Regions from separate parts of the Homo sapiens genome. Here region 2 is linked to region 1. Evidence: fine-mapped expression QTL. A gene starts in region 1. The other region holds a variant in brackets. All regions are shown on one strand. Distances are between the middles of the regions.

The links. PIP is the estimated chance that this variant, and not a neighbour inherited with it, causes the effect.
Region 2: its variant is fine-mapped to the expression of HMMR in activated naive CD4 T cells (Schmiedel 2018, PIP 0.95).

The regions. Positions count from the first base shown.
Region 1 is chr5:163,458,041-163,463,423 of GRCh38, forward strand. It overlaps HMMR (hyaluronan mediated motility receptor), which reads left to right and starts at 2,592. Exons shown (of 18, transcript NM_001142556.2): 1 at 2,592-2,698. The coding sequence starts at 2,653. NUDCD2 (NudC domain containing 2) reads right to left here and starts at 2,062. Exons shown (of 4, transcript NM_145266.6): 1 at 1,822-2,062. The coding sequence starts at 2,010. RefSeq lists enhancers at 1,779-2,028, 2,779-2,838 and a silencer at 2,359-2,448.
Region 2 is chr5:163,491,918-163,497,300 of GRCh38, forward strand. It overlaps HMMR-AS1 (HMMR antisense RNA 1), which reads right to left and starts at 2,141. Exons shown (of 4, transcript NR_109892.1): 1 at 1,782-2,141; 2 at 1,526-1,632. It overlaps HMMR (hyaluronan mediated motility receptor), which reads left to right. Exons shown (of 18, transcript NM_001142556.2): 18 at 1-24. The variant C/T (reference allele first, on the strand shown) is at 3,157.

The DNA of each region.
Region 1 (5,383 bases):
TGGCACGATCTGGCTCACTGCAACCTCCACCTCCAGGGTTCAAGCGATTCTCCTGCCTCAACCTCCCAAGTAGCTAGGACTACAGGCGCCCGCCACCACGCCCGGCTAATTTTTGTATTTTTAGTAGAGATGGGGTTTCCCCGTGTTAGCCAGGCTGGTCTCGAACTCCTGACCTTGTGATCCGCCCGCCTAGGCCTTCCAAAGTGCCAGGATTACAGGCATGAGCTACCGCACCCGGCAAAATGTTGTTTTTAAAGTAAACTTTTAAAAACGTTTTAATCTTTTTGTTGGGCAATCGGCATTAAAAAAACTTTACGTATTCCAGATTTGATAGATTAGTTGTGACTAACTGTTCACAAACTCATGTTTTTTAAAAAAATAAACAAAATATAAATTTAAAAGAGACTGCACCAGGCCCAGTAGCTCAGGCCTGTAATCCCAGGACTTTGGAGGCCAACGTGGATTGCTTGACCCCATGGGTTTGAGGCTGCTGTGAGCTACAATCTCACCCCTGCACCCCAGCATGGGAGACAGGGACCCTGTCTCAATAAATATATATTTTTTTTTAAAGAGAGAATGCCTAAACTCAAATCCATTTTAATTTGTTGCCAAATTTAAGTTATAGAAAGTGAAATTAAATGTCACTAGGAAAAGCCCACATTTTAAAATATGTCAAAATTAGTGAGAAAAAAATCCCACTGGTCTATACGTACATCAGAAATCCCAAATTCAGCAGCTACTGCTAAATTCCGAAAGTTACTGGATTTACTAATTTATAATCGTAATCTAAAACCATTGTTGAGGAAACTATGAATTGTACAATTCAGAAAAGTAACTGAGATCCAAGCTGACATAATGTCTTTCACACGAATCTTGAGGCACTCAAAGCACCTCCATATACTGTAATATATATAATAGCTAATAGCTAACATATAGTATGAACTTATTACATACCAGTGAATACTCCAAGCTCTTCATACACGTGAATACCATGTTAAGCTCAAAACAATCCCATGAGAAGGGTACTATAACTACCTTATCTTGTGGATAAGGAAGATATAGAGACACTGAACAATCTCTCGCCCAAGTTTACAAAACTAGGAAACAAGTAGTCTCCCTTCACCATATTACACTGCCATCAAACATCTTGGGCATCTAACCTGAGAACTAAATCTAATTTCAACCTGTTAGTTTAATTATACACTTAACAAAGAAAAAGCGGGTCCAGATCCAAAGAGCATTGGTGAAAAGAAATAAAAGGAGTACTACTTATTTTATGCACACACCTCTTCACCACCTGCTTGACCACTCCACAAACATGCAGGATTTTCAAGCTTTTAGATGAGAAAACTAATCACCTGACATCATCTCTAAATTCTCTGCCCGTTATTCTATCCCTATTTTCTTTGTTGTCCTTTCCTATATTTATCTATTTATGAATTACGCTTCCGTACAGGAGCTTAACCTCTCCACTGCAGGTACGTTATCTGTTGTCTTCCTGCCTGTCTTCAGTGCACGGAAGAAATATTTGTTCCTTTAGCAACCTAGTTAATCTGTTCCCAGCTGAAGCCCGTCAGAGAAGCAGAAGCAGCAGTCTTAGTTTGAAAACTAAACACGAAAATAGGCTCCTCAAATTTCCACAACTCAGCACCTGCCCTGAAGAGGCGGGGGCTCTGACCAGACCCAAACCTGGTCAGTGTTATCCTCTTTCTCTTTCTGCCAGCCACAGGAGCCGTCGGGACACCCAACAGTCGTTCAGGGAAACGGGGCTGGGGGCGTCTGGGAAGAGGAAACTGAACACAAGCCCCGAGCTGCCGCTACCTTGAGGATCTCGCGGCCGCCCACCGACAGCGCCACATGCCGGCTCTGGAGGCCGCACTGGATATCCTGGGCGCGCGTGCCTGGCGGCACCTGAACTTCAATGAACACCTCCTCCAAGGTCTGGTACCACTGGCCCCACGGGGTCCCGCACGGTACCACCCCACTCCGCTCCTCAAACGGGGCCGACATAATCCAGTCCCTCCCGGCCGCGGCCGCACCAGGCGGAGCCGAGCGCACGCGCGGAATCCCACGCTTAGGCTACGCCTCGGCCTCTCCGCTCGGGTCACTGCGCATGCGCAGGAACGCAAGCTAGCGCTTTGGTGTGCGTGTTCGTTTTTCCCTTTGAATGGCCGTTTACGGCACCGGCAGGCCCCGGATGAAAGAACTGAAATCCAGAAAAGTTCACATGCAACGAACAATGGGACAGAATTGGAACCAGTGAAGCCGGAACTCACTACACCGTCCCCTAAGTGACGCCAAAATGCACTTTCTAACGTCTCCGGAGGGAAGTGCGCTTGCGCAAATGCTAGGTTACACTTGAGTAACTCCGGGAATGACTGGGTGGGTGGGGCGGGGAACAGTAACGGTCTCCTATTGGATGGCAGCCTAAACTCGCAGGCCAGCTAATTGGACGCAATCAGAACCCAGCATTCTTTCTTCGTGTTCCTGTGCGGGATTGGTGTGCCCAGGGGTTTGGCTTTCCAATTGGCTAACGCCGGGGTGGGTGGGGAATGTGGGGAGATTTGAATTTGAAACCGGTAGGGAGTGATAATCCGCATTCAGTTGTCGAGGAGTGCCAGTCACCTTCAGTTTCTGGAGCTGGCCGTCAACATGTCCTTTCCTAAGGCGCCCTTGAAACGATTCAATGACCCTTCTGGTGCGTAAGGGGGAAAGAGCTGGGGGACGGGAGACGCCCTAACGCCCTTTGCCTCTTTCAGCTCCCTTCTTGGGAGGCAAGCAGGAGGCGATTTTAGGGTCGGGCTGGGGCTCATTCAGTTGATTGATTTTTCTCAAATATGCTCTAAGCATCTGTTACATGCCAAGCACTAATCAGGATGCTAAGGATACCGCAGTGAAACAGTCTCCGCCCCGTGGGGCTTACATTCAGGCGGGGAATACTGTCAATAAACAGCGGTAATGGAGAAACTACAGCAGGGCGAAGGGAATGGACCCGAGACGTTGGTAGCTACTTGATTTTCAAGTCCGAGAGGGCCTCACTGATAAGAACACTGGAGTATTACTTGTAGTCTGAACTTGTGCATTTCTTTTGTGTATTCCATTTGGGCATAAAAGAAGGAAGATTAGTAAAGGCAGTTTATGGGTGTAAAATTAGAGCAGCAGCACTTATTGAAAACATAAACAATGAAGTTATGGCTGATATTGACCACTTATACCTCAAGCACCGTACTAAGGCTTTACATCGATTATTAGTTATGTTAATTTCCCACCAACTCTAAGGGGTAATCCTATTATTATTTTATTGATAAAAAGACTGAGACTTAAATTTGCTCAGTGCTACATTACCAAAGTGACCGGACTGGAATATGAACCCAGCCCCCATCGTGTGCTCTTAACACCGCAATGCACAGCACAGTAACCAGGAAGCCTTAGCTGTGTTTGGTAGGCACTCATCATTTAAGATGCTGTATGCGGCCGGGCGCGGCGGCTCACGCCTGTAATCCCAGCACTTTGGGAGGCCGAGGCAGGTGGATCACGAGGTCAGGAGATCGAGACCACCGTGAAACCCCGTCTGTACTAAAAATACAAAAAAAATTAGCCAGGCGCGGTGGCGGGCGCCTGTAGTCCCAGCTGACTACAGGCTGAGGCAGGAGAATGGCGTGAACCCGGGAGGCGGAGCTTGCGATGAGCCGAGATCGCGCCACTGCACTCCAGCCTGGGCGACAGAGCAAGACTCTGTCTTACAGAAAAAAAAAAAATGCTGTATGCTGGGACTGTGCTACTAGATCTTGTTTATTCCTTCCAAAAGCCAAGTGAGGAAGGTACTGATATTGACCTCATTTTACAGATGAGAAAACAGAGGTTTTGTATCTTGCACAATCAGTAAGTGGTAGAGCTAAATATTAAAGCTCATGATTTATTCACTATCATACACTATTTCGTGGTTACTCATTACGTCTCTAAGTTTTGTCAGCCAACGTGTGAATGAAAATACAACTACTCACAAAGGAAGGCCAAATGAGCAAGTGAATCAGCACAAACTTATTTTCTTAGTTAAAAGACTCAAGGACCATATGATTTCCCGAGTAATCAAAGGACCTACTCTTAAGTTTTGTCAGCAGTGTGGCTTTAAGGTTTTTTTGGTTTTTTTGTTGTTTGCATTATAGTAGGTTAAACTGGCTTTATCAAAGATATAGTATTTCAGGCTCACAGTTACAGAAATAATACTAATTATTAATTTGATGCTTAATGTGTATGAGGCACTGTGGTGATTTTTCATATTCCAGTACTCCAGCCTGGGTGACAGTGCGAGACTCTGTTTCAAAAAAAAAAAAGCAAAAAAACCCCCAAAATTTATATTTCAACCTAAGATGTATTTTTATATCTCTACACATACATACGAAAGAAAAGTTTCACAAAACAATGCCTAACTTTGCAGCATATGAGTCATGCTTTTTCTATTGTTTTTACTTTTTAAAAAATGCTAATCAAGATCTACTCATGGGGCTGGGCCTGGTGGTTCACACGTGTAATCCTAGCACTTTGGGAGGCCGAGGCAGAGAGATCAGCTGAGGTCAGGAGTTCAAGACCAGCCTGGCCAACATGGTGAAACCCTGTCTCTAGTAAAAATACAAAAAACTAGCTGGGCGTGGTGGTGGGAGCCTGTAATCCCAGCTACTCGGGAGGCTGAGGCAGGAGAATCGCTTGAACCCAGGAGGCAAAGGTTTCAGTGAGCCAAGATGGCGCCACTACACTCCAGCCTAGACAACAGAGCAAGACTCCGTCTCAAAAAAAAAAAAAAAAAAAAAAAAATCATGAGTTCCTGTCTACTGTTTGACAAACATTTAGGGGACAGCAGTAGTTGCCTGGGAATGGTCCAAGCTCCTTGCTCTTCCTATTTATTTGCATGAGACTCTAGACTGAAGTAAATAGCTTTTCAGAGAATAGTATTAATCTATTTGTTCCCAATCAGCTAAAGCTTTAGGCTAGTAGTATTTTAATTACTTTAAGTCCTAAAGGCCCCATCTCAGGTCTGCTATGTGTATTTACTCAGAAATGCCTTCAAATCTGGGACTTTAGTTAAGTGAAATTATGCAGTATAAACTTCTGGAACATACAAATATAGTCTAGTACAATTTGTACTTTGTGTAACATTGGCTTTTTGAATTTCCTAAGCCTCACATTCTTTGTCTATAAATTATCACACAGGATTCTTGTGAGGATTAAATAAAATAACATCTGTGAAATGCTTAGCATAATGCCTGGCATTTAGTAAGTGCTCAAAAAATTCTAGTTGCTCTAGTGTGGTTGCTTTTCTTCCATGTGTTTGAATTGCAGTTGACATCTTTAATAGGTCTGATGTATTGATATTAGCCAGAGATGG
Region 2 (5,383 bases), 34 kb after region 1:
TTACACAGTAAGTCATTTAACCAATTAATTTTTCAGCTTGTATTTTATGAAGTTACATTCATGCTTCTATGTAAGATGTATTTATCATCTCTACCCTACCCACACCACCTTGTCCCCAGAATCACAAAAGATACTGTTTGGAAAGTGGTAAATCTCTCTCTAAAATGCCTGTTTTGCACATATCATTGGTATGATATTTATAAGCTACCTTTTTTATAATGTGTTCTCACTGATGGCTCAACAGGGACTATCAGTCAGAATTGCTTTTCATTATTATTTTATTAGATCTTAATACATGGTTGAATTTTAAAATACAGTTTTTTAAATTAAGTTCAGAAGAAACGTAGAAATTAGAAAAATTGTCTAATAAAATAAAATGGTTTAATGGGCTGGGCCCAGTGGCTCACGCCTATAATCCCAACACTTTGGGAGGCTGAGGCAGGTGGAATTCAAGACCAGCCTGAGCAACATAGTGATACCTCATCTCTAAAAAATATATAAATAAATAATAAAATGCTTCAGGACCTCTACTTTTAGCCAACATGGGGTAACAAGATGAACAACCAGGTGCACTGCCCAAAGTTCTGCCCACTGGGAGGATTTCTCTTTACCACTATCCTTCAGGGATGTCCCAGAGAAGGGCTGGTGTACTATGGCTATCCACTTTCAGGTGATGCCTACATATCACACAGAACCATCTATAAACTAGGCCCATGTTGTTTCTTCCTGTCAACTCATCATAGGGAACTCTCCATGAGCTTGGGAGAAAAAAGGCAAGGTAGCAGGAACAGGGACCATGGGCATTTGGGTCACTTCTTCATGTAACTTGCTTTTGCCTTCAGGTCCTGCCTGGGCCCAGTCACATACATAACACGTTCTTTGATGATGTACTCCTGCTGTCCACACCCAGCATTATGGCTTGTGGGTCAGATAACACCCAGCTCATGATGGGCAGCTCAGGTCGCATGGTAACTTAATTGACCACGGTAAGCATTCAGTCCCTACTGAAGCCCAGCAGTAGGCCCAGAGCTGTTTCTCAAAAGAGTAGTTATCTGCATAGGATAACAGGTCTTTCTTCAAAATACTAAGGGTCTGCACTGAGATTCATCTATGTGGGCCTGCCAAAGGTTCCAACAGCATCTCTATCTGCCACTGACACTTCAAATACCACTGGATCTGCAAGTTCATATGTCCCAAGCAACAAAGCCGCTTACACAATAGCCTGGACCTATTGCAGAACCTTTCCTATTCTGAGTCCTACTCCAAACTAGCAGCTTTTCAAGTCACTCAGTAAATGGGCCAGAGTAACAAACTCAAATGAGGAAACGTCTTCAAAATCCAAAGAGGCCTGCCGCATGTCATGCCTCTTCTGGTTGTAGGAGGGGGCAGATGCAAAAACTTACCTTAGAAGGGGTATCTCAACATGCCTCATACCACTGGACCCCTAGAAATTTTACTGAGACATGAAAAAGCCTTTGAATTTTTGTTGGATTTACTTCCCACTTCTGACATGCAAATGTCTTACCAATAGGTCTGGAGTAGTTGCTATGTCTCACTCATTAGGTCCAGTGAGCATAATGTCGTCAATGTAATGGACCAATGTGATGTGGAAAGAAAAGGCAATCAAGATTCCTGTGAACAAAATTAGGACAGGGCTGGTGAGTTGATATGCCCTGAGGTAGGACATGAAGGTGCATTTCTAGCCTTGCTAGCTAAAAGCAAACTGCTTCTGGTCGGCCTTATAGACAGGGATGGAGAGAAAGGCATTTGCCAGATCATACCAGGTAGCTGCATACCAGGAACCAGGAGTTGTGTTAATTTGCTCAAGCAATACATCTGGTACTGTAGCTGCAATTGGAGTCACCACCTAGTTAAGTTTGTGATAATCCATCTGTCTTCTGCCCAGGCTAAATAGGCGAGTTGAATGGACATATGGTAGGAATCACCACCCCGCCTTCCTTCAAGTACTTATGGTGGCACTAATCTCTTCAGTCCCTATAGGAATTGAGCATTGCTTTTGGTTTACTATTTTCCTAAGTACAGATAGTTCTAGTGGCTTCTACTTGGCCTTTTCCACCATAATAGCCCTCACTCCATAGGTAAGGAAACCAATGTGTGGATTATTCTGTCAGCTGCTGACTGTATTCTAATTATACATTCTAGAACTAGGGGATAACCACAGGATAGGTTCAGGAATTCACTGGGCCCATTGTGAGATGGAACTAAGCTAAAACTCTGCTGATCACCTGACCTCCATAAGCTGCTACCCTGACAGTAGCACTTTGGATCTCCTGAAATTAGTGTCACTTCAGAGAGCCAGTGTCCACTAGTTCACAAAAGATCTGATTATTCCCTTTTTCTAATGCACAGTTACGTTGGTAAAGGTTGTACATCCCTTTGCGGAGGACTAGGAGAAAGACTAACAGTATAAACATTTGGTTATGGACCAGGGTCCCTTTGAGGTCCTCCCCTTCAATCAAAGGGTTTTGGGCTCTATAAAGTGGCTCAAGTTTGGGAATTAAGGGACCACGATTCTGTTTTTATGATTCGAGTTCAACTTTCGTCACTTGACTTAGAAGTTTTCTGCTTATACAGATCAAGTTAAGACTTCAGTAGGCTTCCTATCTATTTCACGTCTAGGAAAACCATGATCAACTAGCCAAAGCATAGGTCTACAAGTGAGATTATTCTAATTGTTCCTTTGGCTCTGTCATTATGATAACCACTTCACCTTGCCTTTGGTGGTTGAGTCCCATTACTTGACCCTTGCCACCCTGGGATCCTTTACTTCCATTATATTTAGGTTTTCCAGTTCAGTGACTGCAGTGAGCTCTGGCCTACAGAGAAGAGCCATCACAGAGTTCTGAAAAAGATGCTGGAGCTCTCCTCGCAAATTTCTTTCTCATAGTATTGGTGAAAGGTATGCTTTCTTGACCTTCCCAGTGTGGATGAGTAGTTCTTTTTTTTTTTTTTTTTTTGAGACGGAGTCTCGCTCTGTCGCCCAGGCCGGACTGCGGACTGCAGTGGCGCAATCTCTGCTCACTGCAAGCTCCGCTTCCCGGGTTCACGCCATTCTCCTGCCTCAGCCTCCCGAGTAGCTGGGACTACAGGCGCCCGCCACCGCGCCCGGCTAATTTTTTGTATTTTTAGTAGAGA[C/T]GGGGTTTCACCTTGTTAGCCAGGATGGTCTCGATCTCCTGACCTCATGATCCACCCGAGATGAGTAGTTCTTAAGTGAAAAATCTAATTTCCCAATATTCCTAAACCTTTTAATCCCATCCTCTAGATTAAACCAAGGCATGTCCAGCACTTCCAATTCATCTTTTCCATGTTTTAGTAAGCCAATCAAACTGTGAGCACCCTTTCTAACTCCCCAAGCTGCAATGTTAAATGCAGAATCTTGGCTTAGTGAGCCCATGTCAATAAATTTGACCTGATCCAACTTTATGTTCCTTCCATCATTTTCCAACACCTTTATTATCCATTCCGACATATGTTCCCAGATTTTTGTCTGTATAAATTAGAGACTTTGAGTAACTCTTTGGAGTATAGCACATCTCTTCATAGGTAACACTTTGTTCCTGTCTAGTTTCAGGTCTAGAAGCAAAGAAGGGTGGTGGAGTTGGGTCTGGAGGAGAACCAACATTGTCTTGCATATCAACTGCCTCAAAGGAGGCCATTACAATTTCCTCAGGCAATGCAGTGTTAATCATCACAGACAGGTTGGAGGGTACTATCACTGGAAATGGAGAAGCTGCTTCCAATGGGGTTGAGAAGCCTCTCCACTAGCAAAGAAGACTCATCAGAATTTAGGGGCTTAATGTCCCCAGCTTCATCAAGGTCTTCCCATATGTCCCAATCCTAATTTACAGAATCCCATTTTTTTTTCAGTAAGTGCCCTCCTTTTGACAATAGTCACTCTGCAAGGCTGGAATTCTAATTTGTGTTGTAATTCAGCCAGTCACAGGATGAGATGCTGTGTTTGATTTTCAACAGTCTCAGCTCTGGGGCTACAGGAGATAGGGTTTTCTTCAGGGTGCACATAGAAGCTTTCAGATTATTTATGGAGCACTTGAGCTGGGAATAAAAATCCCTACACTCACTTTTGCACCACTTTATCCAGTGACATTAGAAACAACCAACTGTCCTCATTATACTCATTATGAGGCAGAATAGGTAGTCAAGGAAGTAAACATGCCCTTGGTATGCAGCAACTGTGGCTTACTGCACCACATACTTTAACAAAATAAGCCCCAGCATTCACATTGTAGTCAAGCTAATTCAAGCAAAGCTATCTTCAGTAGGAAATTTCCCTGTATATAGCATATACATTTTGATTTTACCTATCCTCAGCCTGACCCTTTGTTCATTATAATAGTAAAAAACCCACTGCTGGGTGGAGATTTAAGATGCTAATGAGACATGCGATATATGAACAAGCATGTACAGCTACTGCTCTTGTGCACCCAGAGGACCACCCAGAACATGCTTACTAGTAACACCTCTTCCCACCCCCTTATGATTAATCATGTAAGACTCCCAGAAAGGGAGTCTCCCTAGTGCCAGTCTTTATGATCTCATCCTTACCAGCAGCCTGTACTGAATCCTCTCTCTAAGGATGTACTATCTATTGTGCACTTAACTTTCAAAATATTCTTTTTCCTTTGCAATGAATTGTTTAATGCTGCAACTTCTCCACTCTGTGTCTCTTAAGTTCTTTTAGACTAAGAAGACAAGAACAAAGGTTTCATAACAGCCATCAACAATTAGTTTTCCAAAAATCAAAAAAAAATATCATATACACAGTTAGCCAGCTCCTTGCCTCTTATAACTGGCTGATTAGAAGTGGCCAATGCAATTATTTTGTGTATTTCTATTGCCAGATCATGCTATGCACTCAGTGCTCACTTTACTAACTGGAAAGAATCATTAACACGTTTAATAAGATCAGAGTACCAATCCCAAGAACCCTGGAACCATCAGGAAACTCATCCTTAACATTCTGTCCCTCTAGAACAACTCTTGGTACCAAAATCTGTATTAGTCACAGTTCTCCAGAGAAACAGAACCAGTAAGAGATACATAGAAAAGTTGATTTACTATGAGGAATTGGCTGACATGATTATGAAGGCTGAGAAGGCTTGCAACCTGCCATTTGCAGGCTGGAGACCCAGGAAAGCAGGTGTTGTTCAGTACAAGCTTGAAAGCCTGAGAACCATCATAGCAGAAGGTATAAGTCTCAGTCCAAAGTCAGCAAAAGACTGGGGTCAGGAAGAAGGGATTAATTCTCCCTTCCTTTGTTTTTTGTTCTACTCAGCCTTCAATGGACCCTCAATCAGCTTTAGTGCATCCACTAATTCAAATATTAACCTCATTCAGAAATACC